Linked DNA regions of Homo sapiens. Each later gene encodes a partner of the first gene's protein in a complex. Each region holds a gene or a part of one and is shown in the gene's direction. Other genes may lie near its edges. The genes, in order: CPSF4, CPSF2 and CPSF3.

Evidence for each region.
Region 2: CPSF4 (region 1) and CPSF2 share a complex: the UniProt entries of both Homo sapiens proteins name them as parts of the cleavage and polyadenylation specificity factor (CPSF) complex.
Region 3: CPSF4 (region 1) and CPSF3 share a complex: the UniProt entries of both Homo sapiens proteins name them as parts of the cleavage and polyadenylation specificity factor (CPSF) complex.

What each region holds. Positions count from the first base shown.
Region 1 is NC_000007.14:99,441,896-99,449,055, forward strand, and holds part of CPSF4 (cleavage and polyadenylation specificity factor subunit 4), read left to right. Parts: intron 1-439; exon of another isoform or gene 440-479; intron 480-801; exon of another isoform or gene 802-1,614; intron 1,615-2,893; coding exon 2,894-2,944; intron 2,945-6,225; coding exon 6,226-6,378; intron 6,379-7,160. UniProt on the Homo sapiens protein: Component of the cleavage and polyadenylation specificity factor (CPSF) complex that play a key role in pre-mRNA 3'-end formation, recognizing the AAUAAA signal sequence and interacting with poly(A) polymerase and other factors to bring about cleavage and poly(A) addition.
Region 2 is NC_000014.9:92,117,622-92,124,968, forward strand, and holds the start of CPSF2 (cleavage and polyadenylation specificity factor subunit 2), read left to right. Parts: upstream 1-4,347; 5' UTR 4,348-4,507; exon of another isoform or gene 4,508-4,730; intron 4,731-7,347. Other genes in the region: NDUFB1 (NADH dehydrogenase [ubiquinone] 1 beta subcomplex subunit 1), read right to left, coding at 1-16. UniProt on the Homo sapiens protein: Component of the cleavage and polyadenylation specificity factor (CPSF) complex that play a key role in pre-mRNA 3'-end formation, recognizing the AAUAAA signal sequence and interacting with poly(A) polymerase and other factors to bring about cleavage and poly(A) addition.
Region 3 is NC_000002.12:9,440,497-9,447,656, forward strand, and holds part of CPSF3 (cleavage and polyadenylation specificity factor subunit 3), read left to right. Parts: coding exon 1-170; intron 171-1,321; coding exon 1,322-1,480; intron 1,481-3,018; coding exon 3,019-3,165; intron 3,166-7,160. UniProt on the Homo sapiens protein: Component of the cleavage and polyadenylation specificity factor (CPSF) complex that plays a key role in pre-mRNA 3'-end formation, recognizing the AAUAAA signal sequence and interacting with poly(A) polymerase and other factors to bring about cleavage and poly(A) addition.

The sequences.
Region 1 (7,160 bases):
TGGCCAGGCTGGTCTTGAACTCCTGATGTCAAGTGATCCACCCGCCTCAGCCTCCCAAAGTGCTAGGATTACAGACGTGAGTCACCGCACCTGGCCACTTTCAGACTTTTTGAGATGCAAATGGAGTGACCTCCCTGTGACAGCCATAAGTTCTATAACCTCAGCTGTGTCCTAGCAAAATCTGCTTGCTTCCAAGAAGCCAAGGAATCTTTTGTGATTTAGCAAGGGGAGGCATGTTAAGTGGGCTTCAGAGATGCTGTCATTGGTTTTTCAGCAATTCTAAAATGGTTACTTGTAGAGGAAACTGTTTCTGATGCCAAGGTCAGTTTAGTCTGGCAGCTGGGGCTGGTGAATTCCTGGACTCATCAGAACAGCTGGTCCCTGGAGCCCACTGAATTCCAGCACACTCCGACTGTGGGAATGAAAGGCTGTGCTTTTTTTTTCTTTTCTTTTCTTTTTTATTAACAAGCAACATAATCGGCCGGGCGTTGTGGCTCACACCTGTAATCCCAGCACTTTGGGAGGCCGAGGCGGGCGGATCACGAGGTCAGGAGATCGAGACCATCCTGGCTAACACGGTGAAACCCCGTCTCTACTAAAAATACAAAAAATTAGCTGGGCAAGGTGGCGGGTGCCTGTAGTCCCAGCTACTCGGGAGGCTGAGGCAGGAGAATGGTGTGAACCCCGGTGGGGCAGAGCCTGCAGTGAGCCGAGATCACACCACTGCACTCCAGCCTGGGCAACAGCGAGACTCCGTCTCAAAAAAAAAAAAAAAAAAAACAAAAAACAAGCAATATAATCAAAAACAAAAACACAACAACCTTAAAGCTGAAACAGCAATAAGTCAAACTGCCGCGGCAGTTCACAGTTTTACCTGGGGTACCTGCTCCCTCATTGCAAGGCAAGACTGCATTTAGTATATATGTGACCAAGAAGAATGAGAGAAGTGGAAAACACTGGAGAACAGAAAGTATCAAGAACCTTTCATCAGGCAATGCCAAAGCGCTCTGCTCTTTTCCTCTTCTTTGCCTCTGTATCCTCTGTGGTTCCAGTTCCAGCTGAACTTGTGACAATCCCAAATCGCTCCTTCCTCTTTTTCAGTTTCTTATCATCTTCAGACTTTCTGGAAATTGAAGAGACATTCAAACCAAATCTTTGAGCTCTTTCCTTCGGCTTATCCAAGTTAACCATAGGTGTGTTCAGATGACAGACTTTTGTTGGAACTGAAGAAATCCCAAACCTAGCTGCCTGAGCAGCTTTCTTACTCTCCAAGCTCACAGGTACACTGAATTGTTCGGCCCTCTTCTGCATTCTCTCAGCCTGTGGTATTTCAGATGTAATTTTCACCACTTTCTTCTCTGCTGCCACATCAACAGTTTTTTTCAGGGGGTTCTTCCTATTTGACAAGGGGTTTTTTTCTTCTTCTGTTTCATCTCCTAGTACATCTTCATTTGCCTCCTCTTCAGCATGTTCTTCAAGATATGCCTGGAGTCTGTGGATAAGATCTTGCTTTATTCCCTTGGTCTCCAAACCACAAGAAGACATTCTTGCTTTAGTTTAGCAAGCTTCAGCTTATGGAGCTCCACCATCTCAGTTACCATCTTGTTACCCCTCCGGGTGTGCTCTTTTAATAATTGTATGTGGGGTGGGGTGCGGTGGCTCAATCCTAGCACTTTGGGAAGCCAAGGCAGGCGGATCACGAGGTCAGGAGTTCGAGACCAGCCTGTAATAATTGTATGTGGGCCAGGTGTGGTGGCTCACGTCTATAATCCCAGCACTTTGGGAGGCCAAGGTAGGTGGATCACTTGAAGCCAGTAGTTTGGGACCAGCCTGGCCAACATGGCAAAACCCTATCTCTACTAAAAATACAAAAAAATTGGGCAGGCATGATGGTACACCTATAATTCCAGCTACTCAGGAAGCTGAGGCAGGAGAATCTCTTGAACCAAGGAGGCAGAGGTTACGGTGAGCCAAGATCGCACCACCACACTCTAGCCTGGGCGACAGAGCGAGACTCTGTCTCAAAAAAATAGAAAAAAAAAATTGTGTACGGATGTTGCATATTAAAAGCAGTCCTCTGTTTCTGCACTTAATGTGCTTCCCCCTGGACTAGCATCTCAGAGGCACTGCCTCTTCCTTGAAGCCTGACCCTCCTCAGAGGCCCTGATTGTCTGTACGTCTGTGAGATCATTCCTTCCCTCTGCCTCATGTTAAGGTATCTGTGAATTCGCCCTCCTGGAGGAAGGTGTGAGCTAGGGGCCGTTAATTTATTCCTGTGTGTCAGGCACTTTGGCTCAACGCCTGTAATCCCAGCACTTTGGGAGGCCGAGGTGGGTGGATCACCTGAAGTCAAGAGTTCGAGACCAGCCTGGCCAACATGGTGAAACCCCGTCTCTACTAAAAATACAAAAATTAGCCAAGCGTGGTGGCAGGCACCTGTAATCCCAGCTACTTGGGAGGCTGAGGCAAGAGAATTGCTTGAACCTGGGAGGCAGAGATTGCAGTGAGCCAAGATCGCGTCATTGCACTCCAGCCCAGGCAACTAGAGCGAAACCCCATCTCAAAAAAAAAAAAATTATTTCTGTGATCTCGTACTCCAGCCTTCCTTTCCCCACCCACTCTTAACTCCTTGAAAGGATCTTATATACAGGAGGCTCTCAAAGCACTGGGTAATGACTGTTCTCAATGTATGTGTCTCATTTTGTAGGGCGTGACTAACTTAAGCAGCTTCTTCCTTGCTTGGTTGGGCTTTGCAAATTTTTGCTACTTTATTTCCTGTACCCTGAACCCTTGGTGGGTCAGAGGTCAGAAGGGTTCCCTCCCACTGTCTTCAGACATTGTCAATAGCAAATTGCACCTCTTTGATTCCTCTCCTTTTCTCTCCTTTCTACAGAGTCGGGCGCTGCTGTCTGTGAATTCTTTTTGAAAGCTGCCTGCGGCAAAGGTAAGAAACTCCGGGCTCCCTGATGTGCCTCCGGAGGCGCCCTCCCACCTCCTTCTCCCCGGCAGACTTGGAGGCCGCCAGGTCTCTGGCTTACATTGCTTTCTACAGACTAACGATCTCTGTAGATAAAACTGGTTTGGACAGGCTAGGACCCTGATGGGGTGTTCCACCTGAAACCTAAACGCAGGACTGAACCTGGCTCTAAGGCTGCCTTATCACTTCGCATTCCCCGTGGCCACAAGCTGACCTGTGACATGGAGAGAAGCCCCCAGCATTGAGACACTCAGGAACTTTCTCAATGTCACAGAGTTAATAAGCGGCAGAGCCCAGTGTCTGAACCCAGGTCTTTCTCATTCCATAGTTTCCACTGGCTCATGGTTTTCTGTGGCCTCCCATCGAAACACCCCATGATAACCCATCTTGCGGGGTCTTGTTCTCGATAACCAGCCCTCAACACAGACTACACAAAACTACTGAGGTGCGAGAATCCCTTGAACCAGGGAGTCAGAGGTTGCAGTGAGCCGAGATCGTGCCATTGCACTCCAGCCTGGCAACAGAGCAAGACTCTATCTCAAAAAAAAAAAAAATCTTGCTTTATTTGCTCGTCTCCAAACCACGAGCAAGACATTCATTCTTACTTTAGTTCAGCAAGCTTCAGCTTATGGAGCTCCACTGTCTTGGTCGCCATCTTGTTACCCCTCTGGCTGTGCTCTTTTAATAATTGTATGTGGGCCGGGCTAATCCATCAGAAGTATCACTAGGGGTCAGGCGTGGTGGCTTACGCCTGTAATCCCAGCACTTTGGGAGGCCGAGGTGGATGGATCACCTGAGGTCAGGAGTTTGAGACCAGCCTGGCCAACATGGTGAAACATCGTCTCTACTAAAAATTCAAAAATTAGCTGGGCATGGTGACGCCCGTCTGTAATCCCAGCTACTGGGGAGGCTGAGGCAGGAGAATCACTTGAACCTGTTAGGCAGAGGTTGTAGTGAGCCAAGATCGCACCACTGCACTCCAGCCTAGGTAACAGAGTGAGACTCTGTCTTAACAAAACAAAACAAAAAAAAAAGAAAGAAAGAAGTATCACTAGGTACAACCTAAACTTTCCATGGTCTGGGCATTTTTCTCCCTGTAGGAAAATTTATTTAGGAGACTTAAATATTAATCAGAAGCTTGAAAAAGAGAGCAGAGAATCAGAGCAAAGGGCTGGTTTTAATGAATGGTTTTGGTGAGTTTTGCTTCTATAACGTAGTCATTTACCACTGAGGTAGGAGACTTTCTGGCAGATCAGCCAGGCCACCTTCACACTGTCCAGTCAGAACGTCATTACCTCCACTGAGTTTCTGGTCTCATTCCCATGTCTTTGCTCAGTAATTCTGCCCTTCTGACCAGCCACCTTCTGTTAGCACAGCCATCCCTAACACAGGGCATTCTGTCTCTCTGTTGACTAATACAGTAGCCACTAGTCACATGTGGCAGTTCAAATTTAAGTAAAATCAAATCACATTTAAAACAAAATTCTCAGACACACTAGTCATATTTCAAGTGCTCAGTAGTCACATGGGGCTAGCAGCTGCCATATTGGACAGCAGAAGTGTACAGCGGCCTCATTCTGGTCGGACCTCCATGGTGGTCTTGCCAGGCCACCCGTTAGAAGTCTCACACATCCCCAGAGGCTGGCTCTGTCCCATCAGGTCCTGTCCCAGAAGGGACACGTCCCTCCATGTGTATACATCACATTTCCTCAATTCTGAAATTGGTCTTTCCTTTTTTTTTTTTTTTAAAAAAGAGGCAGCATCTTACTCTGTCACCCAGGCTGGAGTGCAGTGGCACAGTCATAGCTGACTGCAAGCTTGACCTCCTGGGCCCAAGTGATCCTCCCACCTCAGCCTCCTCAGTAGCCAGGACTACAGGTGTACACCACCATACCCAGCTTTTTTTTTTTTTTTTTTTTTTTTTTTTTTTTTTTTTAACGGAGTTTTGCTCTTGTTGCCCAGGCTGGAGTGCAGTGGTGTCATCTTGGTTCACTGCAACTTCTGCCTCCTGGGTTCAAGCAATTCTCCTGCCTCAGCCTCCTGAGTAGCTGGGATTACAGGTGCACACCACCACGCCCAGCTAATTTTTTGTATTTTTAGTAGAGACAGGGTTTCATTATGTTGGCCAGGCTGGTCTCGAACTCCTGACCTCAGGTGATGCACCTGCCTTGGCCTCCCAAACTACTGCGATTGCAGGTGTGAGCCACTGTGCCTGGTCCCCAAGCTTGCTTGGCTGGCTTACTTACTTACTTACTTATTTATTTATGTAGTGAAGACAAGATCTCAGGCTGATCTCGAACTTCTTGGCTCAAGTGATTCTCCTGTCTTGGCCTTCCAAAGTGCTAGGATCATAGATTTGAGCTCCTACACCCGGCCAAGTTCCTTTCTTTTTTTTTTTCTTTTTTTTTTTTTTGAGACAGAGTTTTGTTCTTGTCATCCAGGCTGGAGTGCAATGGCGTGATCTCCGGTCACTGCAACCTCCGCCTCCTGGGTTCAAGCGATTCTCCAGCCTCAGCCTCCCAAGTAGCTGGGATTACAGGCACCCACCCGCAAGCCGGGCTAATTTTTTTTGTACTTTTAGTAGAGATGGGGTTTCACCATGTCAGCCAGGCTGGTCTCGAACTCCTGACCTCGTGATCTACCCACCTCAGCCTCCCAGCACCTCCCCCCTTTTAATTCCTCCATCTTACAGTAATATCTGTGAGATCATGAGTAACTTTTTTTTTTTTTTTTTTGAAAAGGTGTCTTGCTCTGTTGCCCAGGCTGGTGTGCAGTGGCGCGATCTCTGCTCACTGCAAGCTCCGCCTCCCGGGTTCACGCTGTTGTCCTGCCTCAGCCTCCCGAGTAGCTGGGACTATAGGCGCCAGCCACCATGCGCGGCTAATTTTTTGTATTTTTAGAAGAGACAGGATTTCACCGTGACAGCCAGGATGGTCTCCGTGCCAGCCAGGATGGTCTCGATCTCCTGACCTTGTGATCCGCCCACCTCGGCCTTCCAAAGTGCTGGGATTACCAGCGTGATCCACTGCGCCCGGCCATGAGTAACTATTAAAATGTAAAATGTCTGTCAGTGTAGTACCTCAAATCATGTTGCCTTCTGTGAGGGGGACCTCTGCCCCTTTCCAGGACGTGATGCCTTCAGGTGGCTCCAGGAGTTAGGAAGTGAAGGTACCTCAGCTTCTTCAGGCCGTGTCCCCCAGGCTCAGGGTGGCCTCTCTGCTGACACCCTGTCCCTATCTTGCCGGCAGGGGGCATGTGTCCGTTTCGCCACATCAGTGGTGAGAAGACAGTTGTGTGCAAACACTGGCTGCGTGGCCTATGCAAGAAAGGGGACCAGTGTGAGTTCCTGCATGAGTATGACATGACCAAGATGCCCGAGTGCTACTTCTACTCCAAGTTCGGTAAGGCGCCTGGAGCCCTGGAGGCTCTGCTGAGAACCAGGGTGCAGAGGGGTCCGCTGGCTGCTCAGTGCCCACACTGTCTCTGCCTGCTTTTCCCATCTTTCTATTCTCAGAGGAGAACTCTGGCAGAACCTGCCAGCCTCAGCCAGCTTTTAGGGGACAGTGTGGCTATTTTCTGCTCATCTCTTTTTTTTTTTTTTTTTTTTTAAAGACATAGGGTCTCGCTATGTTTCACATACTGGTCTTGAACTCCTGGGCTCGAGTGATCTGCCTGCCTCAGCCTCCCAAAGTGCTGGGATTACAGGCGTGAGCCACCACGCCTGGCCCCGCGCATCACTTTGGAGTGCTTCAGTGTTTGGAGCTCTTTCAATCACTCGGATTTGAGGCTAACGAGGGTGACCCGGAAGCAGCGAGTTGTGCAGCTGGCTGCATTATGTCCGTGGTTGGTTTCTGTCCACGTCCACCTTCTCCCTGAAACCCACTTCTCCCTCCAGCGTGGGCATTGCCTCTCAGGCCCGAGCTGGTTCCTTCTCTCCAGGAGCCATGATCCTGGTGACATCTCAGCCATCCTAAATAGCCCTTCAAAATAACAGCCTCAGATGTGTCTTCTGGTAGCAACAAACTTGCCTTGAGCCCTGCTTAGAGAATGCGTGGCCTCAGCTGTCCTGAGTGGCCTGCGTGGAGAAGCGGGAGCCCGGGTGGAGTCAGTGGGGCTGGCACGGAGTCTGGCAGAGATGTGCTCCCTGCTGGAAGGAGTCCCCAGGGTCCCCGCTCAGGTCTGC
Region 2 (7,347 bases), on another chromosome or scaffold:
GAAGTAAGTTCACCATGATAGCTAAAAGAAAAAAAAATTATCAGAAATACAACTGCTTTGTTTTTTTTTTGAAATAGCTTTTAAATTGCATCTGGGCCAGGTGCGGTGGTTCATGCCTGTAATCCTAGCACTTTGGGATGCTGAGGTGGGCAGATCACTTGAGATTAGGAGTTCGAGACCAGCCTGGCCAACATGGCAAAACCCCATTTCTACTAAAAGCACAAAAATTAGCCGGGTGTGGTGGTGCGCGTCTGTTATCCCAGCTACTGGAGAGGCTGAGGCAGGAGAATTGCTTGAACCCAGGAGGCGGAGGTTGCAGTGAGCCAAGATCGTGCCACTGTACTTCAGCCTGGGCGACAGAGCAAGACTCCATCTCAATAAAATAAATAAATTGCATCTGAAACAAGAAGATGATAGACATAGATGTAATAGATGTTAAAAGCCTAATACGCCTCTTTGTTTGCCTGGCATCAGAATGTAGTATAATACTTTAAAATCTAATTGATGAAGATTACATACGGGACAATGATTAATATAAAATTACACCACACTGGGTCTATTTATTACATTTTACTACTAGCTTCAATAGTGATGTGATACGATACAGAGCAGAGAAACAGAGATGGTATGTAAAAAAATTCTACCTGCAACAGCTGATTGTTTGCACCCTCCTCATGTTGTTTTGGAACTTTTTTTTGTAAAAGAGACAAGGTCTTGCTATGTTGCCCAGGCTGGAGGGCAGTGGCTATTCACAGGCACTACAGCTCTCAACTCCCGGGCTCAAGCATTCCTCCTGCCTCAGCCTCCCAAGTAGCTGGGACTACAGGCATACACCACTGCACCTGGCTCTCATTTAGGACTTTTACTTGTGTAAAACATATTTAGAACCTCTCACAATGCAAAAACAAATTTAATACAATTTTGCCAGAAATGGAATTCTTTAGGTAAAGCTGTAATTACTGAAAACTAAATTTAGAAAGGAAATTAAAAGATATGAGAGAAAAAAGAAAACTATATTCAATAATGTCACTGTAGATATGAATATAAATTACTCTAAAAAAGGTAAAGGGGCCGGGTGTAGTGGCTCACGCCTGTAATCCCAGCACTTTGGGAGGCTGAGGCGGGTGGACGACAACAAGGTCAGGAGTTCGAGACCAGCCTGGCCAACATGGTGAAACTCCATCTCTACTAAAAATACAAAAATTAGGTGGGCGTAGTGGCACATGCCTGTAGTCCCAGTTACTCAGGAGGCTGAGGCAGGAGAATTGCTTGAACTCGGGAGGCAGAGGTTGCAGTGAGCTGAGATGACGCCACTACACTCCAGCCTGGGGGATACAGCGAGTCTCTGTCTCAGAAAAAAAAGAAAGAAAAAAAAAGGCAAAGGGAGAAGAAAATTTACTTTTATAGAGTGACTACTAGGTGGCTCATGCCTGTAACCACAGCACTTTGGGAGACTAAGGCGGATGGATCGCTTGAGCCTAGGAGCTTGAGACTAGCCTGGTTAACATGGCAAAACCCTGTCTCTACAAAAAATCAAAAAATTAGCTGGGTGTGGTAGTATATGCCTGTAGTCCCAGCTACTTCGGAGGCTGAGGTGGGAGGATTGCTTGAGCCCAAGAGACGGAGGTTGCAATGACCTGAGATCACACCACTGTACTCTAGCCTGGACGACAGAGCGTGATGCTGTCTCAAAAAAAAAAAAAAGACTACTAGGTTACTAGGTACCAGAGCCATCATCTATTTCTATACGTAATGTGAAATAACTATTATTTACATTTTACAGATAAGAAAACAGCTTAATCCAAATAGCTATTAAGTACAGAGCTGGAGTTCAAATTCAGCTTCACTCTACAGCTCTGGCTGCTATTATAGCCCATGCCTAAGAAACCCCTTCCTGAATTGATGTTTATGGTACTTAAAAGCTTTTAAATGCTGAGTTTCCAGAAGGTAGATGAGGAGGAATAGAACTATAGGTTTTTCCTTATCCGAAATGCTTGGGACCCGAAGTGTTTTCGATTTTTTGATTTTGAAATATTTGCATGCACATAATGAGCTATCTTGGGGATAGGACCGAATTAAAACATAAAATTCATTTGTGTTTTATATATACCTTATACACATAGCCTGAAGGTAATCTTATATGAAACTTTTTTTTTTTTTTAAATAGTCTCGCTCTGTCACCTAGGATGGAGTGCAGTGGAGTTATAATAGTCCACTGCAGTCTTGAACTCCTGAGCTCAAGTGATCTTCCCACCTCAATCTTCTGAGAAGCTGGAGCTACGGGTGCTAATTTAAAAAAATTCTTTAAACATTTTTTTTTGTAGAGACAAGATCTTGCTATGTTGCCCAGGCTGGTCTCAAACTTGTGGCCCCAAGTTTCACATATGGGGGCATTTTGGATTTCCAACATTCTGATCAGGGATACTGAACCTGTAATAGACATCATGTGGAAAATAAATTGCACAATTCAATAAAAACATAGTTGGATTGCCAATTTTCTGTAAAAATTCGTGCATACAGATGAATTCAAAATACACCTGTGTGCGTTTGGACTAAACTAATAAATCATGTACAATGACTAAGAAGACATATGACAACATCCTAGAAAGACAATACATTATTGCCAACAAAAGTGCTTAGCACTAAGCTGTGCTAGGACTATGTAGACTGAATTTCTGCCTCTCCTCTTACACTGGCATGCTTATACAATTCATACTTTTTTCTTTCCTTTTTTTTTTTTTATTTTGAGACGAAGTTTCGCTCTTGTTGCCTAGGCCGGAGTGCAATGGCGCAATCTTGGCTCACAGCAACCTCTGCCTCTCGGATTCAAGGGATTCTCCTACCTCAGCCTCCCAAGTAGCTGGGATTACAGGTATGCGCCACCATGCCCAGCTAATTTTGTATTTTTGGTAGAGACGAGGTTTCTCCATGTTGGTCAGGCTGGTCTTGAATTCCCAACCTCAGGTGGTCCGCCCGCCTAGGCCTCCCAAAGTGCTGGGATTACAGGCGTGAGCCACCGCGCCCGGCCGTTCAAGTGATTTTCTTGCCTCAGCCTTCCGAGTAGCTGGGACTATAGGCAGGTGCCACCACGCCCGGCTAATTTTTGTATTTTTAAGTAGAGATGGGGTTTCACTGTTGGCCGGGCTGGTCTCAAACTCCTGACCTCTTGATCCGGCCACCTCGGCCTTCCAAAGTGTTGGGATTACAGGCGTGAGCCACTAAGCCTGGCCATACTTTTGTCTTTTAAAAGGCAAGGTGGGCCAGGTGCAGTGGCTCACGCCTGTAATCCCAGCACTTTGGGATGCTGAGGCGGGTGGATCACGAGATCAGGAGTTCGAGACCAGCCTGGCCAACATAGTGAAACCCTCGTCTCTACTAAATATACAAAAAATTAGCCGGGTGTGGTGGCGGGCGCCTGTAATCCCAGCTACTTGGGCTGCTGAGACGGGAGAATCGCTTGAACCCGGGAGGCGGAGGTTGGAGTGAGCCGAGATTGCACCATTGCACTCCAGCCTGGGTGACAAGAGTGAATCTCTGTCTCAAAAATAAAAAAGCAAAGTAAAAGGGTAAGCACATCATTTAGGCGCAACGGTGTCGGCTCAAGAGGATTTGCGATTTGGAAGAGAGCGAGGTTAGCGAGAAGACAGAAGGCTGGAACTTGGACGAATGTAAGCTGCTCGCGGAGGGGAGGCAGCGTCTTCCCTGCTTCAGGCCAGGCGTGGGATCCGGGCCGGTCTTCTCTCCAGTCCGGTTAGCGGGCGGTCACTGGGTCACATCTCTACGGACGTTTTCCTGTTATGACAGCCTCAGAAAACCCTTTCCAAAAGCTCCGGCCCGGAAATCCCATCCTCCACCCGAAGAAAACCCCATTTTCCTTTCCCGTCACCTTCGTTCGGAAGCCCCGGGGAAGCCCAGACCACCCCTCCACACATGCACAGCACCGAGGGCTTGCCTAGAACCCTCCCCGCCACCGTCGCCGTGATCCTCGTCGCGGCGGCCCCCCGGGCTCCCCAAACCCACCTGCAGCCTCAGCGCCTACAGCGACCCCGAGACCAAGGGCAACAGGGAACTCAACCCGCGCCAGTGGAAGCTGCGACCTCGGGACCTGCCATTCGCCGCGCCCGCACGGAGCAGAGGGGTGACGCCAGCAAATCATACTACTTTTTCCTCCTCAGGGTTGACTCCTCTCATTTTTTTTTTTTTTAGCTTCCAAACATTACCAATAATTTCTGAATAAAATTTCGCTCCAGACAGACGAGGCGTGCAGGCGTGACCGCCGTCGCCTTCCGACAGCACCGTGCCCACCCCCCGGAGATGGTCTCGCCCTGGTTCCTCCTCGTCTCCGCCGCTAGTCTCCAGCTCCAAAATGGCGGCTGCCACTGTGGGGCTTCTGCCGGCCGGTAGTCCCTGGCGCTGCTGACCCAGCATCGGCTTTTCTACGTCTTGAACCTGGATTCGCCTAGGGGTTGGGAAGGGCTGTGGACGGCGTTGGGGGAGGCCTGACGAGGCAAGTGAGGGCGGGAGAAAGGAGCGAGCCTCGGGCTGGGGAAGGCGGCGTCATTGGCCCTCCGGGAGCACGGGGCCCCGACTCCGACCCGGTCTCCCCCGAGGACTCGCCCCCGCCGCTTCGGCTGCGACTGTCCCGGTCGTTCCCGGCAGAAGTGGTCAGCGAGGGAAAGAGAAGTGACTTCTCCATGGGTTTCAAGCTCCCAGCTGTTTTGCGGCAGCCCGTACGGTTCCCTCCCGGGATCTTCTTCCCTCCTTTCTGCTTCCCTCTGCTTCCCCTTTCATCTCTTGGCGCTGGAAGAGTTAAACCGACGCCAGCTTTAGCTCCTTGGCTTCGTGGCTACGGCGTTCTTAGCCTCCCCTGCTCGGGCTCTTCCCGTCGTTTTGGGTTGAGAGACCACGAGGTTGCTAAGCTCTGGACACCGCTTAGGCGTCCTTTTAGTTCTTCGACTCCAGAGACCTTTCGGTTGTTTGTACCACACTGTACTAAAAGGGTCTTGGGCCTTCGCGCCCTCCCGCCATCGCCCTCCAGCGCTTCCACTATCACTGCGAAGTTCTAATTCTTTTTTGACTTCGTACTATTTTACGTGCTCTTTAGAAAAGAAGAGGTCAGATTGAACCCCGGCAAGTCTGGCTTCCTGTGACCAGGCGAACCTGAGCTATCATTTATACCCATCCCCTAATTTTTAATTTTACAACCCCTTTAACCCCTTTCTTTTTTCTTTCTTTTTTTTTTTTTTTAATAAAGACGGGGTTTCACTATGTTGCCCAGGCCGGTGTCGAACTCCTGGGCTCAAGAGATCCTCCCATTTTGGCCTGTGCTGGGATTCCAGGCGTGAGCCACCATGCCCGGCCTTGCAACCCCAGTATGAAACTGGGGCTCTCCCTCAACTGACCGAGAAGAGCCTTCCCCACTCAGTGAGCTCCAGGGCTAACCCAAACTCCTCTGTTTTCCCTTGGATTTTGCTTAGTTCACCTTAGTTGTCATCAACATGCACGGTAATTATTTTTTATTTTTGAGAAGGAATCTCGCTCTGTCGCCCAGGCTGGAGTGCAGTGGCACGATTCTCGGCTCACTGCAACCTCTGCCTCCCGGGTTCAAGTGATTCTCCTGCCTCAGACTCCCGAGTAGCTGGGACTACAGGCGCGCACCACCACGCCCACCTATTTTTGTAGCTTTAGTAGAGACAGGGTTTCACCTTGTTGGCCAGGATTATCCGCCTGCCTCGGCCTCCCAAAGTTCTGGGATTACAGGCGTGAGCCACCGCGCCTGGCCGATTTATTATTTGAGACCGGGTCTCGCTCTGTCCACCCAGGCTGGAGTGCAGTGGTGCCATCTCAGCTCACTGCAACTTCCGCCTCCTGGGCTCAAGTAATCCTCCCACCTCAGCCTCCCAAGTAGCTGGGGTCACCAGCGCAGCCACCGCGCCCGGCTACTTTTTTGTGTTTTTAGTAGAGAAGGGGTTTTGTCATATTGCCCAGGCTGGTCTGGAACTCCTGAGCTCAAGTGATCTGCCCTCCTCGGCCTCCCAAAGTGTTGAGATTAAAGGCGCAAGCCACTGCGCCCGGCAACATGCACGATTATTATTAAGAGGGCAAGTAACTGTGAGATATTTGCGATGAAGTAGTATCTGTCAAAACCAGTGCTCTGAAGGAATTTATGATATGATGAGGCTTCATTCCTTCTTGCAGTACCCATTTATGCTGCCTTGACCACTGAAGTTGGTATTGGATATACAAAGATGATCACTTTTACTCCTCTATACATTGAACATCCATTCAACAAATACTTTATGTGCCTCCTTTATAACAAAATAACTAACTTTGCCTAGGGCAACAAAAAGGCTTTATAAAGGAGTAAATATGTGAGCTGGGTCATATAGCATCAAAAGGAATTTGCTGAGCTCAAAAGGAGAAGGTAATTTCGGGATTCAGTACAGGAATACAGAGCTTTGAGAAGCTTTAGCATACTTAGGGAGAGTGGGATAATCAACCTGCCTGAGCATTTAGTGCACGAGTGATTGGTGAAGCAAGAGGTAGGTTAAGATCAGCTTGTGAAGGATCTTGGTTTCCAATAGGGAGTTTAGATTTTTTTCAGTAGTTACCAGGAATCCAGTGGATATTTTGTGCAAGGAGTGAGCAGGAGGATATTTGTTTTTTTAGGATGGTCTCTGACAGCTATATGGAGGATCAACTGGGAACAGAAAAACTAGATGAAAGGAAATGGGCAATCATTCAGGTAAGGCAATGAGGGCCTCCATGGAGGCAGGACATAAAGGAGGTCAGAGAGACACTAAGTAAATGTCAAATGGGATTCACCTGCTGACTGCTAAGTTAATGGTAAGAAGGTGACTTGAGTTTTTAGTCTGGGAGAGTAAATGGTTGGCAATACTATTAAAACTTAGTCTGAGACATGTACATAAACATAGGATGGTGCCAACCTGCACTTTAGGGGTGACAACATGATGCTCTATAGTGTAAAGCATTGGTTTTTATGGTCTGGAGTCTAGATCTGCACTGTTATGGTAGTCACTAGCCACATGTAGCTATTGAGCACTTCAGATGTCGTTAGTCTATTTGAAATGTGCTGTAAATATAAAATACACAGTGGATTTTGAAGATTTAATATGAAAATGTAAAATATTCAACATGATTACATGTTGAAATAATATTTTGGTTCTATTGGGTTAAATAAAATTCATTAAAATTCACCCGTTTCTTTTTCACTTTTCCATGTGGCCATGAAGAAATTAAAAAGTACATTTGTGGCACGCATTATATGTCTGTTGACAGAGCTGTTCTAGTCTAGACTAGATGTGGGAATTTGTAAGGAGGTGGAAC
Region 3 (7,160 bases), on another chromosome or scaffold:
ACTGGCAGAATCACCCAGAACTACATGACATTCCAATATACTATGCATCATCTTTGGCCAAGAAGTGTATGGCAGTGTACCAGACATATGTAAATGCCATGAATGACAAAATCCGCAAACAGATCAACATCAATAATCCCTTTGTTTTCAAACACATTAGTAACCTCAAGGTGAGTGCTTGTGGAAGAAAGACAAGGATGGATAAAACCAAATCAGTCATTAGTAGTAGGAGGTACGAGGCCGTGAGTGATGGCTCACAGCTGTAATTTAGCACTTTGGGAGTCTAAGGCAGGAGGATCACTAGAACTCAGGAGTTTGAGACCGGCCTGGGCAAGATAGTGAGACCCTGTCTCTATCAAAATAAAATAAAAATCGTAGGCAGTGCTTGTCAGTGACTCTGGCTGAATTCCTCTTGCTGGAGTCTTACCGCTTCTCAACAGGTGTCGTTTTTCTGCAGAAAATCAAAACTTCAGCAGCTGACATTCTTTTTCTGCTTCAACAGATTTTGCCACTTGCCCCAAGTAGCCATGTGTTCTCAGTATTTATAATACTCATCTCTTTTGCCGTAGGCATAAAAAGTTCTGAGGAGAAAAATATTTTGTATTATGTATTTAAGTTTCTCTTCTCACTCAAACCAAATCATCTTTTTGATTAGTGCTGCAAATTCTATATATGAAAATTTTTATATACTTTTCTGGAAGCATTCAATAAAATCTGATTTTATTTAATTTAAAAAATACTGTTTAACTCGATGCTTGAATCATAATAAAATAATTGATATCCGAAATAATTTAAAAGTGGACTTCCAGTTGTAAATAGGCTTTGTTCATAAAGTATTTATTTTAAGTTAACTGCTTAAGGATTGTAGACAAGTTCTCCCTAGAACAATGTTAAACCTTTTGATTTCCAGGCCAGCTCAAAACATGCATGGAGCATGCAAAGCTATTGTGAGTCTTTGGGAATATTTTTTCAGAGTTGTGTCTTGGGTAGATCAAGACCCATTTGACTCTTCCTTTTACTTTTCTGCCTGCCTGCTAGGCGCTGAAGATGGTCCTGATGGTTCTGATGGCCCTCTAGCTACCAACAGAAGGTTTTGAAGATCGGGGTGAACTTACCGCTTTTTATTACTTGGTTTTTCTACCATTCCTAGCCTAAACTGTTTAGGAATTTGGCAACTGAACTTAAAATGTTTACAGATCTTGTGAAGGCTCTTTCAGTGATGTGATTAATCTCTTAGCCTTTTGTTATTCTTTAAAAAGAAAGAATGCTTTGTCAGCTGCTGGTAGCTAACATACTTTTCCCATTCTGTTTTCTCTCTTAGAGCATGGATCATTTTGATGACATTGGTCCCAGTGTTGTAATGGCCTCCCCAGGCATGATGCAAAGTGGCTTATCCAGAGAATTATTTGAAAGCTGGTGTACTGATAAGAGGAATGGTGTCATTATAGCGGGATACTGTGTAGAAGGGACACTTGCCAAGGTCAGTTACAGTCATAGGCTGTTGTGTTATTCCTATTCAGAATCACGGAGGTGGCACGGTCCTCACAGGTTTTTGCACTGAAGTAGTTCTTCAAATAATACAAGTTTTGATTTTTAAAAATGAGGACGGGAATAGGTAGCTAGAGATGTGCGTAGGATGTAGAATTATGCAGACACTGAATGGCATAATGAGGTCCCAGGTGATTGATATACACATTAAAGTTTGAGAAATGCTCATCTGGTTGCAAGTAGAGAAGAATGGACAGGAACCTGTTTGAGACAAACACGTGAATACTCTCCGTCCTCTCATGAAGAAGAGGTTGACTAATACATATGATCTTAAAAAGCTGTAGAATGTGTTTGGGTTGACCACTTTCTACTATTATGAAACATTGATTTTCAGCTCTTAGGGATGTAGAAATTGTAGAAAATATATGCAGAACTTGGGAGGCAGTTTCTGAGCATCCAGGCATCACATTCTCATCCTCTATTTTATTTTTAAAAATATGATATGATTCTTTGATAATCTTTATTACTTTACCTTATTCTATAAAGTTCTTTAGTGACAATGTTGTATTTAAAATAGATTTCCAGGCTGGGTGCAGTGGCTCACACCTGTAATCCCAGTACTTTGGGAGGCCAAGGCGGGCGGATCACCTGAGGTCAGGAGTTCGAGACCAGCCTGGCCAACATGGCGAAACCCCGTCTCTACTAAAAATACAAAAAATTAGCTGGGCGTGGTGGCGTATGCCTGTAATCCCAGCTACTCGGGAGGCTGAGGCAGGGAGAATTGCTTGAAACTGGAGGCGGAGGTTGCAGTCAGCCGAGATTGGCGCCACTGCACTCCAATCTGGGTGACGGAGCAAGACTCCATCTCCAAAAAAAAAAGAAAAAAAAAATTTCCAGGCCTGGCACAGTGCCTCACATCTGTAATCCTAGCACTTCAGGAGGCCACAGCAGGTGGATCACTTGAGCTCAGGAGTTGGGGACCAGCTTGGGCAACATGGAGAAATCCCATCTCTACAAAAAATACAAAAATTAGCCAGGTGTGGTGGCACGTGCCTGTAGTCCTAGCTAGTTGGGGGACTGAGGCAGGAGGCTTGCTTGAACCCAGGAGGTCGAGGCTGCAGTGAGCTGAGATCGCACACTGCATTTCAGCCTGGGTGACAAAGTGAGACCCTATTTGAAAAAACAAAGATTTTCAGAATAGAAATATATCCACATATCTAGGAAATGACTTTGGAGAGCACAAGAATAGTTGGGAATACAGGTTTGTCTTTCTAAGCATAAGAGTTATGATTCTCACTGCCAGCACTCCAGATAGATGAGTTTTAGTTAATTTGTTTACTTTTCTCATTAAATGTTTGCTTGATTGAGAACATGAGTATTTGATATTTACTGAGTCAGTTATATTAGAATGATTTTGTGCGTAAGGTCCTAAATTTAACATGAATTTATGACTGCATGAAAAAAATGAAAATGTACCTTTACGATTATAACTGGGTAGTTTGTTTTGTTATTTTTCTTTATTTTCCACAGCACATCATGTCTGAACCTGAAGAAATCACTACTATGTCTGGACAGAAGTTACCACTGAAAATGTCTGTTGATTACATTTCTTTCTCAGCTCACACGGATTACCAGCAAACCAGTGAATTTATTCGTGCTTTGAAACCGCCTCATGTGGTTAGTCTATGAATTTCATTTATTGTATTAAAGGGAAAAAAAGTGCATACCCAGGAAACTGTGCAGCAGGCAGTTCACAAAGCAGGCATCATCACCTACTAATGCGACACCCCCTGAGCAGAGCCTTTCACATGCACTCGGATTTGGCCTTTACAACTCCCCTTTGATTTCAGCAAGCTGCCCCCTTTCTCCAGAACTGACTGACTCAGACCTACCAACCCCAATCCTAATGTTTTTCTGTTATTTTCTGCTGCCTCTCCAATAATTTAAGAGCCAGGCTTGGAGTATGACTGCTCATTTGGAATGCCAGCTCCATCTCTTACTTACTATGTAACCCTTGGCAAGTTACTTAACCTCTCTGTACCTCATTTGTAAATAGGAATAATAGCTCATAAGGTTATTGTAAGGATGAAGTGAAAGAACATATCTAAAGCACTTAATATGGTGCCTGGCACATAGTAAATGCTTAATATATATATTATATATATATATATATATTTTTTTTTTTTTTGAGGCGGAGTCTTGCTCTGTCACCCAGGCTGACTGCAACTCCGCCTCCCGGGTTCAAGCAGCTCTCTGCTTCAGCCTCCTGAGTAACTGGGATTACAGGTGCCCACCACCACACCCGGCTAATTTTTGTATTTTTAGTAGAGATGGGGTTTCACCGTCTTGGCCGGGCTGGTCTTGAACTCCTGACTTCATGATACACCCGCCTCGGCCTCCCAAAGTGCTGGGATTACAGGCGCGAGCCACTGCACCCGGCCGACTTACTTATATTTTTAAGTATCGTGTAACTTATTAAAAATAAGTTAGATATTTTGATGGAATTGGAAAGGAGGGGTAAGCTGAAAAAAGTGTGTATTTTTAATTAGAAGAACACTAATGAAGCATGTGTCCATAGAAAATAGATGACGTGCCCTTTCCAAATGTATTGGAAAGCAGGAGAAATGGCCTTTTGTTAGTTTTGTTTGTTTGCTTGTTGTTTGGGGTGTTTTTTGGTTTGTTTGTTTGTTTGTTTGTTTGGATGAAGTCTTGCTCTGTTGCCTAGGCTGGAGTGCAGTGGCGCCAATCTCAGCTCACTGCAGCTTCTGCCTCCTGGGTTAAAGCAATTCTCCTGCCTCAGCCTTCCGGGTAGCTGGGATTACAGGCACGTGCCACCACGCCCAGCTAATTTTTGTATTTGTAGTAGAGACAGGTTTTCACCATGTTGGCCAGGCTGTTCTCAAACTCCTGACCTCAGGTGATCTGCCCGCCTCGGCCTCCCAAAGTGCTAGGATTACAGGCATGAGCCACTGCACCTGGCCTTGCTTGTTGTTTTTTAAATACGTTTTACTGTGGTAAAATATCTAACATAAAATTTGCAGTTTTAACCATTTTTAAGTGTACAAACCAGTGGCATTAATTATATTCACAGTGTTGTACAACCATCACCACTGTCTATTTTCACAGCTTTTCATCACTCCAAGCAGAAACTCTGTACCGTTACACAGTAACTCCCCATTCCCTTCCGCCAACCCTGGTAATCTCAAATCTACTTTCTGTTTCTATGAATTTGACTATTCTAGGTATTTCATATAAGAGGAATCATAATGCCTATGATGTTTTCAAGGTTCATCATGTTGTGGCATGTATCAGCACTTCATGCCGAAGTCATGGTCCGTTATATGTAGACCACATGTTGTTTATCCATTCACCTGTGGGTGGACACTCGGGTTGTGTCACTTTACAGCAAATGTGAAGTGGTATCTCGTTGTGGTTTTTATTTTCATTTCTCTAATGACTAATGATGTTGAGCACCTTTTCATGCAGTCTTTTGTTCGTTTTTGAGTTTTTTCTAGCATGATAGGCCTCACAGGTATTTGCCACTGGCCCTTAATGAGCAGATTATTTGGTCAAGAAAAATCACTCTCCTGTCTATAGCATCACAGTGTGTAGGGTTTAGTCACAGAGTAGGCTCCTCCCAGGTGTTTCTTATTGTCTGTGTGCATGAACACTCCCCCAGATTTCCAAGCCAGGGAGGAAAAGCCGAATTGCTCTTTTGTGTGGTGTCACCACCTCATCCTCAGCCCCATTTCATCCTGTCACTCTCCTGGTTCTACTTCTGCTGACAGTTTAAGTTCCTGGGTTGAACTTCATGCTCATTTTCTTGTGATAACCAGCTCCAGCAAAAGTATAGCTGCAGGATAAAATTGCAATACTAGTAGTGTTGGTGGTAGTAATGAATACTAGCTAACATTGATTATTTACCATGTGCCGGACACTGTATATGTGTTTTATATGAACTGACTTGCTTAATCTTCATGACCGACAGCTGTTCTGCAGATGAGACAACTGAGGTGTGAAATCACTTGGTCAAGGTTACACAGCTTAAATAAGCAGCAGCACCAGGATTCTGTTCAGGCAGCCAGGCCCAGGCCCTTCCCCAGCAAGCAGTAAGCCCCTGCCACGTGCTGGTGCTGGCTATGCCCAGCCACAAGCCATCTACCACATGTGAGAGGCTAAGAACAATCTATCTTGGCCGGGCTGCAGTCCCAGCACTTTGGGAGGCCGATGTGGGTGGATCACTTGAGGCCAGGAGTTCGAGACCAGCCTGGCCAACATAGTGAAACCCCATCTCTACTAAAAGTATAAAAATTAGGCAGGGCACGGTGGCTCATGCCTGTAATCCCAGCATTTTGGGAGGCCAAGGCGAGCAGATCACGAGGTCAGGAGATGGAGACCATCCTGGCTAACACGGTGAAACCCCGTCTCTACTAAAAATACAAAAAAATTAGACGGGTGTGGTGGCAGGTGCCTGTAGTCCCAGCTACTCGGGAGGCCGAGGCAGGAGAATGGCGTGAACCTGGGAGGCGGAGCTTGCAGTGAGCCGAGATCACGCCACTAGACTCTAGCCTGGGCGACGGAGCGAGACTCGGTCTCAAAAAAAAAAAAAAAAAAAAGTATAAAAATTAGGTAGGCATGGTGGTTCACACCTGTATCCCAGCTACTTGGAGGCTGAGGCATGAGAATCCCTTGAACCCTCGAGGCAGAGGCTGCAGTGAGCCAAGATCACGACACTGCACTCCAGCCTGGGTGGCAGAGTAAGACTGTCTCAAAAAAAAAAGAACAATCTGTCTTGTAAGATAGAAGTTACAAAAGTGAATGGAAAGGGACTGGTAGCTAATGCTGTTGTTGTAAATACCCTCTAAAATATTCCATTTGGGGCTGAGCACAGTGGCTCATGCCTGTAATCGTACCACTCTGCAAGGCTGAGGTGGAAAGACTGCCCAGAAGTTTGAGACCAGCCTAGACAACATAGTGAGACCTTGTCTCTACAAGAATAAAATAAAACTAGCCAAGCATGGTGGCTCATGCCTGTAGTCCCAGCTACCTGGGTGGCTAAGGTGGGAGGATTGTATAAGCCTGGGAGATTGAGGCCACGGTGAGCCAAGATTATGCCACTGCACTCCAACCTGGGCAACAGAGCAAGACTCTCTTTAAATAAAGAAATATATAAAGTAATAAAATGTTCCATTTGGTTCTGAAATATTTTATTAGGATAGGTACAGTGGCTCACGCCTATAATCCTAGCATTTTGGGAGGCCAAGATGGGCAGATCACTTGAGCCCAGGAGTTCAAGACCACCTTGGGCAATATGTGAGACCGTGTCTCTACAAAAAATACAAATATTAGCCGGGCATGGTGGCGTGTGCCTGTAGTCCCAGCTACGTGGGAGGCTGAGGCAGGAGGATTGCTTGATCCCTGGAGGTTGAGGCTGCAGTGAGCCATGATCACATCACTGGACTCCAGCCTGCGCAACAGAGTGAGACCCTGTCTCCAAAAATATATCAATATATGAGGTAGGCCAGGCACAGTGGCTCAAGCCTGTAATCCCAGCACTTTGGGAGGCCAAGGTGGGTGTCAAGAGTTCGAGACCAGCCTGACCAACATGGTAAAACCCCGTCTCTACTAAAAATACAAAAAATTAGCCAGGCATAGTGGCGTGTACCTATAGT